3 linked regions of the Homo sapiens genome follow. The gene in region 2 interacts genetically with the main gene of each other region. Each region holds a gene or a part of one and is shown on either strand. Other genes may lie near its edges.

The links.
Region 1: changes in SDHC (region 2) and NCBP1 together harm fitness less than expected from each alone (positive genetic interaction), as found in Homo sapiens cells (one large-scale study listed by BioGRID).
Region 3: changes in SDHC (region 2) and PAFAH1B1 together harm fitness more than expected from each alone (negative genetic interaction), as found in Homo sapiens cells (one large-scale study listed by BioGRID).

What each region holds. Positions count from the first base shown.
Region 1 is NC_000009.12:97,664,821-97,668,320, reverse strand, and holds part of NCBP1 (nuclear cap-binding protein subunit 1), read right to left. Parts: intron 1,559-3,500; coding exon 1,444-1,558; intron 1-1,443. UniProt on the Homo sapiens protein: Component of the cap-binding complex (CBC), which binds cotranscriptionally to the 5'-cap of pre-mRNAs and is involved in various processes such as pre-mRNA splicing, translation regulation, nonsense-mediated mRNA decay, RNA-mediated gene silencing (RNAi) by microRNAs (miRNAs) and mRNA export.
Region 2 is NC_000001.11:161,317,322-161,320,984, reverse strand, and holds part of SDHC (succinate dehydrogenase cytochrome b560 subunit, mitochondrial isoform 1 precursor), read right to left. Parts: intron 1-3,663. UniProt on the Homo sapiens protein: Membrane-anchoring subunit of succinate dehydrogenase (SDH) that is involved in complex II of the mitochondrial electron transport chain and is responsible for transferring electrons from succinate to ubiquinone (coenzyme Q).
Region 3 is NC_000017.11:2,677,154-2,680,653, reverse strand, and holds part of PAFAH1B1 (platelet-activating factor acetylhydrolase IB subunit beta), read right to left. Parts: intron 491-3,500; coding exon 334-490; intron 1-333. UniProt on the Homo sapiens protein: Regulatory subunit (beta subunit) of the cytosolic type I platelet-activating factor (PAF) acetylhydrolase (PAF-AH (I)), an enzyme that catalyzes the hydrolyze of the acetyl group at the sn-2 position of PAF and its analogs and participates in PAF inactivation.

The DNA.
Region 1 (3,500 bases), on a different chromosome or scaffold from region 2:
TCTGAAGAGTTTATAGAATTTAATTTTTTCTTTTTAAAGGAAAAGAAAAACAAGGCATGGTTTATTTCCATTTTACAGAGAAAAAAGGCTGAGAGGTTAGATGACTTTCCCAGCATCACCCAGTCAGAAAGTGGCAGAGCCAGAACGTGGCTCTAAGGTGTTACATACCAAGGTACTTTCAGCAAGAAGGTGGCATCACTGAATCTAGAAAGCCTGGTAATTCTTCGAGGTTAATACTTAACTGCTAAGGCCCCATCTACTGATCTCTCCACTTTAAGCAAAATTATCAGAACCCTGCTCTCGGATATCACAGAATCTTGCTTTTCTCTCTATAAACACAGCCCATTTATGAGGTCTGCTCTATGTTCTAGACACGTGGGTACACGACTGTCCTTTCCTAACACCACTCAAAGGTAAGGTTCTAGAGCACTACTACCTAATAGATAGACCTTTCTTCAATGGGGCCAATGTTATATAAATATGTGCAGCCTGTTACGACCGCAACCACACGTTACTACTGAGCACCTGAAATATGGTTGTGTGACCAAAGAACTGAATGTTAAATTGTATTTAACTAAAATAGTCACGTGCAGCTAGTGGCTACTGTGTTGGACAGCACACTTCTAGAAACAGTGTGGCATGAGAGAAAAGTCTCTGGAGTCTGACAGACCTGTGTCAGAACCTAGCTCTGGTCATTTACCAGCTATGCAACCTACTAGCTATGTTACTTAACTTCTCTATGTCTCACTTTATAACATCTACAAAATGAGATGACACCATTTACCTTACAGTATTTCAGGTCTGAGTGTTTATATCCATATATGTATACAGGTATGTCTACATGGAGACTGGTACTCAAACTTGCGAAAGGTTCCTATAGGGCACTAAACTCAACTTTTTTTCACCTTCTACTATGGTAAATATGCATAACACTGGAAAATACTTTCATAATGAATAGTAGTATCATGTTAAGTCACTCACTGCTTCCCTCCAAAATGGCTAAAATACTAAATTAATACTATGAGAAGTATTCCGTTAACTTGGGAATGACTGCCCCATTCCTCCTCACAGTACGGGGAAAGTGTTAAGTATCTATAGTCCTCTCCCTCTTCCCCCAGAGACTCCTACAGAAATACAAGTGTCCTCTTCCCTTCTGCTACTTCCCTTGTGCAAACGTGAGGCCGACCCAGAGATAGTGAACTATGGGAAGTGAAGTTTGTGGCTTCCTGAACTGGTTCATCATGCAGTGTAACAGCACACAACACACTACCTGCTCCTTCCTCCTCTTCTGCTTCTGCATTAAATTGGGCTCAGAAAAATTTCTGCTCTGCATTAATTTGGGCTCAGAAAAAATGAAATATCATCAAGATAATGAACTCTGAATCCTCTCCAGAGTTTCTGGTATATTTTCTTTAACTACTTACAAGTTTACACAAAACTTACCCGTTTGTGTTGCCTAGCAAGTTTCTCTTTAGCTTCTTCCAGCTCTTTCTGGATCTTCAGGACATGTTTGTTCATCTTACGAATTGTAGAGTGCAAAATTTCCCAAACAAACAATCTTAAAGAAATATGGCATTTGGTTACTGTATGTCAAGCTATGGTTACAGAAAATAAAATCTTTCAACTTTTGTAATTTCATTCTTAACAGCTGATACAGCCTTCTGTCCTTGGGGCTGAATTAGTCATCTTTCTCCAGCAATACTTACAAATTGGTCTTTTATTGTAAATTGTGCAAGTATCTATCTTCACACCCATTAGATTCAGGCGAGCCCCCTGAGGGCAGCACTGTGTAGTCATTTTTCTTATTTCCATCCCTTACCAGAGGTACATACTTACTGAATTGAAATGGCAAACTATGATGGACATTAACATTAAAAATGGAAATACATTTTTCCTCTCCTAAATGTAAACATTATGTGTAGAAATTTTCTCAAAATGGTGACCTAACCTGAGACTTATTTCCCATGCTTTATATTATTTAACTAGCACACACTCAGCCAATTATTCTCTTGGAATGTTTAAGAAACTCATTAGTTGATAATAGGTATCAACTGATGGGCTCTAAGAATGAGATAATTATATGTCAGCTTTCTTACTAGCAAATACATACTAAGATCACTTTGTAGGTGCTTTGAAATGTTTGTTGCATAAGTGTTTTTCTTTTAAAAAGTAACTTCTCAGCTACTTTTGTGTCTATAAACTAGGTCTCCTAACCCAGCACAGAATAGTACAGTTGGCCCTTGAACAATACAGGTTTGAACTGTGCAGGTCCATTTACACATGGGTTTTCTTCCACCTGAGTCAATAAGACCAACCCCTCCTCTTCCTCAGCCTACTCAATGTGAAGATAATGAAGATGACCTTTATGATGATCCACTCTCACTTCATGAATGTTTCCTCTCTTATGATTTATTGTAAGAATACAGGATATAACACATACAACACAAATATGTGTTAATTGACTACGTTATCACTAAGGCTTCTGGTCAACAGTAGGCTACTAGTTAAATTTTCCATGCAGTTAAAAGTTCTATGCAGATTTTTGACTGTGTGGGGTGGGGTGGGTGGGGCGAAGTCGGTGTCTCTAACCCCTGTTGTTGTTCAAGGGTGAACTGTACTTCCTTCTACAAATTTTGACCCAAATAATAGTTTAAGTGGAAGATAATAAAACAATCTGTTCATAAAACTCCAAGTCTAGAATGTTAGGAAACAGGACAAAAGAGCAGAGCACTTTAACTCTGGAGGGGGTGGACTATAGTCAGGGAAAGGTTTGCAGAGTTACAAATATTTGAGCTAGGTGTTAAAGAACAGATGGAGCTGTTGAGCACTATACAGATTCCAGAATGCCTGGGTTTGAATGCTGGCTCTGCACTTAGTTGTGTGACTTTGGGCAGGATAAAGCACTCTGTGACACTTCCCTATTCTGTAAAATGTGGACAATAATGGAACCTTCTCTACGGTGATGCGGTAAGGATAAAATGAATTGAAAACGTAAATCACTCAGGACAATGGTTAAAACATACTCGGGTGGTTAGTTTTCTGAGAGTTTACAAATCTGAAAAGGTTCTTCTGTTGTCTTTGTTTATGAAGGCCAACCTGGCCGGTATGACAACCTTAGATCACACCCTATCACCCTAACAATTCAGTATATTTCTGATCAGTGTCCTCTGGCAGTAACAGATACAGTGGAAAAGTTAAAGGTTGTGATGGACTTTTATGTTTTTACAAGTAATTTGCTTTAGTTTCCTGCTTTGTGTCAACTCCTGCTGCCCTGGTCCTATCAGCTGTAAAGTCCGTGAACTTCATAAATAAGAACCAAACAGCAAAAACTTTCTTTCCGTTAGGGGGAATGAGGGCAGAATGAATCTTCTGCATTAAACCTAAGATTATGACTGTGGTGAGAACCCCTTTCCCCCATCCCTCAGGTGTCTTGTTAATCACCAAGCTTTCCTGGATCCCTCCATGATTTACTCTACTTTGACTTTGATTTCTCCTACTTC
Region 2 (3,663 bases):
CGTAGTGGCGCACGCCTGTGATCCCAGCTACTCGGGAGGCTGAGGCAGGAGAATCGCTTGAACCCGCGAGGCAGAGGTTGCAGTGAGCTGGGATTGGGCCACTGCACTCCAGCCTGGTGACAGAGCGGGACTCCATCTCAAAAAAAAAAAAAAAAATCAAGACTGAAGTCTTAGAATAAGTTGTATAACTTGAGTGAGTCATTGAGCTTCAGCGTTTTCAGTTATAAAATGGGATTGATAATACCTACCTTATTGGTTGCTGAGGGGACTGCACAAGAAAACATACAGGAAAGCATTGTCTAAACTACAATACACCACATATATATGTAACATATTATCACTGGTCTCCCCGAGGTCTTTAGAATTTGCATCACATTCTTTTTAAAACCCTCAGTGGTGACAAAAATACTCATCCACTGAAAATAAATTTGATTTCTGGAAAAAAAAAGTTATTCAAAGCCAAGTCTATGTGATCAAACTGAATACCATTTTTAGTCCAAAACAAGATGTGACTATAATTTATCTTATTATAGTCATACATTATATGACTGTAATATAATGAGTTTCTAAACTTGATCTGATGGTATACCAAAAAGTTTCATAAATGTCTAGGTAACAGCAACAATAAAATAGATATATAACTTTGAATGGCATGATGAATAATAATTTGTATACAAAAGTTCTGGTTAATGATTATTACCACCCAACTACCAAACTATAACCTAAGTCATCCTTGATTTCTTTTCTTTCACCACCCCCCCCATATGATGGCATCACCCAATCCTATCATTAACAGCTAGGAAAATTCATTCCAATCCATTGCTATAGTCTATATCCTCTTCGTTTCTCACTAGGACTGTAACAAGAGCTCCTGAACTGATCTCCCTCGCACCAATCTCTTACATATCATTCAATAACACCAACACTAATTTACTGAAAAATAAATAAAATAACATGGTTTCATCATTCTCCTGCCTAAAAGTCTTTAACAATTTCCCGCTGCTTACAGTATAAGATCCAAACTGTGGGCAAACAACGCACTTCACAACGTGGCCAACTCTCTGGACCTAACCTCCCACAAATTCCTTTCAATCCACTGTAATTCTGCCACACTGAACATTACATTATGTCCAGCTACAGCAAACCATCTTTTGACCACATGCCTTTGCTCATGCTGTTCTCTGAATAGAGCCTCCCTCAGAGCCTGTTAAACTCATCCTTCAAAACTCAATTCCTAAGGGCCGGCGTGGTAGCTCATGCCTGTAATCCCAGCACTATGGGAGGCCAAGGTGGGTGGGTCACTTGAGGTCAGGAGGTTGAGACAAGCCTGGCCGACATGGTGAAACCCCACCTCTAGTAAAAATACAAAAATTAGCCAGGCATACTGGCACACCCCTGTAATGCCAGCTACCCGGGTGGCTGAGGTAGGAGAATCACTTGAACCCAGGAGGCAGAGGTTGCAGTGAGCCAAGATCACACCACTGCACTCCACCCTGGGCGACAGAGCGAGACTCAGTCTCAAAAAAAAAACCAAAACCAAAAAAAAAAAAACAACCAATTCCTGGATAGCAAGATCACTTCTTTAGCCTTACTTGCTATATCTGCCTTGCTCTCACACTTGTTCATATCTATCAATATTTCTTATGTGGTTTAATAATTAATCTATTTATCTCCCTGCTAGACTTTGAGCTCAAACTATCAAAATATTTTGGATCCATAGTACCACAGTACTTTATTTATTTATTTATTTATTTATTTATTTTAAGACAGAGTTTCGCTCCTATTGCCCAGGCTGGAGTGCAATGGCACGATCTCAGCTCACAGCAACCTCCACTTCCCGAGTTCAAGCGATTCTCCTGCCTCAGCCTTCTGAGTAGCTGGGATTACAGGCATGTGCCTCCAAACCTAGCTAATTTTGTTTCTGTTTTTTGTTTGTTTTTGAAATGGAGTTTTGCTCTTGTCACCCAGGCTGGAGTGCAACAGCACAATCTTGGCTCACTGCAACCTCCGCCTCCCAGGTTCAAGTGATTCTCCTGCCTCGGCCTCCCAAGTAGCTGGGATTACCAGCACCCACAGGCACCCACAACCACGCCCAGCAAATTTTTGTATTTTTAGTAGAGACGAGGTTTCTCCATGTTGGTCAGGCTGGTCTTGAACTCCTGACCTCAGGTGATCCTCCCGCCTCGGCCTCCCAAAGTGCTGGCATTACAGGCATGAGCCACTGCACCTGGCCTTGGATCCACAGTACCTATAATAATGTCTGACACAAAGAAAAAGGTTAAAAAAAATAAAAATAACAAAATAAAAAGGTTTGTGAATGAATATGCTTATTTTAAAAAGCAGTTTCATAAATTGAGAGTTAAACCTTAATATTTAGGGGCATTTCACATACGGCATTTAATACAATGAGTACTGGCCAGATAGTTAATGACTCTTGGTGACTTTGTGTTTAAGGAGCATGAACATTATTACATAGAAGCCTAGCTGTCCTTAGCTTAGTTCTCTAACTCCTTGGCCTTGGCAAGTCATTCCTTGACTGAGTGCCAATGGTTTGTGTTACTTAGCTGGTTGTTCATCTCTAGCTGGTCCCTGAACTGTTTAGAGAACATACAAAATAGAGAGCATATATTCAAAAGCCATGACAATACAATACTCTGATAACTAATAATTCTTAATTAGCCAAGCATAAACATGTTTATATGCGGGGGAGGGGGAAGGGGAAGAAGTTGGTCAAAGGATACAAAATGTCAGTTAGAAGGGAGGAATAAGTTCAAGAGATCTATTGTATAACACAGTACAATTTTTTTTTTTTTGAGATGGAGTCTTGCTCTGTTGCCCAGGCTGCAGTGCAGTGGCATGATCTCAGCTCACTGCAACCTCCGCCTCCCAGGTTCAAACGATTCTCCTGCCTTAGCCTCCCGAGTAGCTGGGACGACAGGCGCGCACCATCACACCCGGCTAATTTTTGTATTTTTAGTAGAGATGGGGTTTCATCATGTTGGCCAGGATGGTCTTGATCTCCTGACCTTGTGATCTGACAGCCTCAGCCTCCCAAAGTGCTGGGATTACAGGCATGAGCCACCATGCCCAGCCACAATTGTTATTATTATGTTATTATGTTGTTACATTGGCCCGGCGTGGTGGCTTATGCCTGGCTCGGTGGCTGATGCCTGGCTCAGGTGGATCACCTGAGGTCAGGAGTTCAAGACCAGCCTGATCAACATGGTGAAACCCCGTCTCTACTAAAAATACAAAATTAGCCTGGCATGGTGGCACACGCCTGTAGTCCTAGCTGCTTGGGAGGCTGAGCCAGGAGAATCGCTTGAACCCAGGAGGCAGAGGTTACAGTGAGCTGAGATTGCGCCACTGCACTCCAGCCTGGGCGACAGGGTGAGACTCTGTCTCAAAAAAAAAAAAAAAAAAAAAAAAAAAAACCACACACACACACACACACAAAACCAAGGCATTGCATACTTGAAAATCACTAAGAATAGATTTCAAGTGTTCCCCCACAAAGATGTAATGCATATGTCAATAGCTCCACAAGGTACACATATTTCAAAACATCGTGTTGTACACCATATATACAATTTTTATTTGCCAATTAAAATAAGTAAATAAAAAAATTTTTTAAGTTTAACCAAAAATAAAAATAAAGGCCAA
Region 3 (3,500 bases), on a different chromosome or scaffold from region 2:
GTTGAGGAAGATTTTGTTTGAGAAACAAACTAATAGGGGAGAAAAATTACCCATCAGAGTGGTAAGTAACCTCTTCACAAATTGTGGTTTCCAAAACCAATGTTGTGCAGTGGAGAAAGTAATGTTTTTATTATAAGGCTAACGATGGAAAGAGTTAACGGGAAAGGAGAATTTAAAACAAATGGTAGGAATCCACAAGATTTTCATGTCTTCTCTATTCTGCCCTGAAAGCACAGTCATTTCTTACCTGGCAAAGTCCACACGATTATGTAAAACACAGTTTGTCTGGCACTCCAAAATCTAATGTTCAGAGACCTCGCGAGGCGTACATACCCAAGGAGGTAACAAAGTGTTCATGCGCATTGAGGGTCTTCATGCATCGCTTGTTCTTGTAATCCCATACGCGTAGGGTCTTGTCATCAGCACAACTCAAAATAAACTTCCCCCCAGAATGGAACAGAACTCCACGTACCCAGTTATCATGACCCACCTTAAAAACAAAAAAGTTATTTGACTCAGTAAAAGGCAAAATGTTTAAATAGCATCTATTTCATAATACGATAAAACTATACATACCAAAAACATCAAAAGACCAGAAGAAAATAAAAGTCTAGGGGATTCTAGATTAAAGGAAACTGAAAACTCATAAGACATGAGGAGTGAATATAACGTACGATCCCTGACTGGGTCCTGGATGAGGGTTAAAAAGAAGTCCCGCAGGGCATTATGGAAATAACAAGAACAAATCTCAATATGTAGTCTATCAATGGTAAATTTCTTGAGTGTGAATAATTTTATTTTGGTTATTTATATACTATCCTTGTTCTTAGGTGGTTCATGCTAAAATACTTGGGGGTAAAGTGTTACGATGTCTGCAAAGAACGCTCAAATGATTTCAGCAAAATATACACACATACATGAAGGAAAACCAACAAATGGTAACTAAGTGAAGGATATACAGGCATTCACTATATATCTATATATCCATCCATCCATCCATCCATCCATCCATCCATCCATCCAATCATCCAATCATCCATCCATCCACCCACCCACCCATCTATCTATCCATCCAATCATCCATCTAATCATCCATCTAATCATCCATCCATCCATCCATCCATCCAATCATCCATCCATCCATCCATCCAATCATCCATCCATCCATCCATCCAATCATCCATCCATCCATCCAATCATCCATCTATCCATCCAACCATCCAATCATCCATCTATCCATCCATCCAATCATCCATCCATCCATCCATCCAATCATTCATCCATCTAATCATCCATCCATTTAATCATCCATCCATCTATCCATCCATATTTCCCCTGTCGCAGCAGTTCTGTTCTTGCAATTTATCTTTAAGGACATGCCCAGAGATTTAGTTAGCAAAGATGTTCACAAAGCATTGTCTGTAGATCAGTGTAGAAGAGCATCTAACAACATAAGCAAGGATCACATACTTTCTAAATTAAAGGTTTGCTACAAAGCTACCTTAAGGGGCATGATACCATTTTTATAAAAAATAGCACATTCATCTACACATTAAAGAAAAAGGCTTAGAACTGCACAGTTGAACATGGTAGCTACTGTCCATGTACGCCTACTTTAATATATAATATTAAGATTACATACAACCAACAATTCAGTTCTTCAGTCTCACTAGCCACATTTCAAGAGTATAATAGCTGCATGTGGCTAGTAGCTACCACGCTGGATAGTGCAGTTATAGCACAGCACTGCAAAATTTTGTTTTGTTTTAAAAAGAGACAGCAACTCTGTTGCCCAGGCTGGAGTATAGTGGCATGATCACGGCTCACTAAAGCCTCAAATTCCTGGGTTCAAGTAATCCTCCTGCCTTAGCCTCCCAAGTAGCTAGGACTATAGGCATGCATCATCATGCATGACTAATTTTTAAACTTTTATTTTGGTAGAGACAGGGTCTTGTTATGTTGCTCAGGCTGGTCTCAAACTCCTGGGCTCCTCCTGCCTTGGCCTCCCAAAGTCCTGGGATTACAGGTGTGAGCCACTGTGCCTGGCCAAGAGTATGTTTTTCTTGTTTCTTTTCTTTTTTTTTCCTGGAGACAGAGTCTTACTTCACTGCCCAGGATGGAGGGCAATGGTGCGATCTCGGCTCACTGCAACCTCCGTCTCCCAGGTGCAAACGATTCTCAAGCCTCAGCCTCCCGAGTAGCTGGGATTACAGACGTGCGCCACCATGCCCGGGTTTTTTTTTTTTTTTTTTTGAGATGGTTTCACTCTTGTTGCCCAGGCTGGAGTACAATGGCGTGATCTTGGCTCACTGCAACCTCCGCCTCCCAGGTTAAAGTGATTTGCCTGCCTCAGCCTTCCCAAGTAGCTGGGATTACAGGCATGTGCCACCATGCCTGGCTAATTTTGTGTTTTTAGCAGCGATGGGGTTCCTCCATGTTGGTCAGGCTGGTCTCGAACTCCCAACCTCAGGTGATCCACCCATCTCGGCCTCCCAAAGTGCTGGGATTACAGGCGTGAGCCACCGCGCCTGGCCACGCCCGGCTAATTTTTGTAATTTTAGTAGAGACGGGGTTTCACCATGTTGGCCAGGCTGGTCCTGAACTCCTGACCTCAGGTGATCCACCTGCCTCAGCCTCCAAAAGTGCTGGGATTGCAGGAGTGAGCCACTGCGCCTGGCCTGCTTTATTTTAATTATATATCATCTTTTCTTAACAGCAACATGGTATAGCTGAACTCCGCTCAGAATACTACTAGAGGAGAGTTTCATTTTCTTTTTATTTATTTATTTATTTATTTTTTGAGGCGGAGTCTCGCTCTGTCGCCCAGGCTGGAGTACAGTGGTGCCATCTCCGGTCACTGCAAGCTCCGCCTCCCGGGTTCACGCCATTCTCCTGCCTCAGCCTCCCAAGTAGCTGGGACTACAGGCACCCGCCAGGATGCCCGGCTAATTTTTTGTATTTTTAGTAGAGACGGGGTTTCACCATGTTAGCCAGGATGGTCTCAATCTCCTGACCTCGTGATCTGCTCGCCTCGGCCTCCCAAAGTGCGGGGATTACAGGCGTGAGCCACCGTGCCCGGCCGAGAGTTTCATTTTCTAATCAGTTCTTGAAGATGCTTCCACATATGTCTGTCATATCCTACAGAGAGACAATCACTTCAAGGTATCATTAGCACCTAAAAAATCTCTAAACAAATGTGGATGCCAAATTATAAAAACTACTACTAAACAAACATCCACAGATCTCCTTGGAACTCCTTTAGGCACATAGGAATGTCCACAATCCCTTACTAGTATTGACATATCTTTCTATGGAAATACAGATGCTCCTAAATAAGCCAAATAAACTAGATCATGTGAGCAAGGAGGTATAACAGTTAAAAGGATTCATATAAATAAAGTGAAACAGAGAAACAAACATCTTCAACAGTGAACAGGTCTCTAAGAATGCTGCTTTTTCTCCGTAAGAGATATTACACATTTGTTTTATTTTATTTTTTT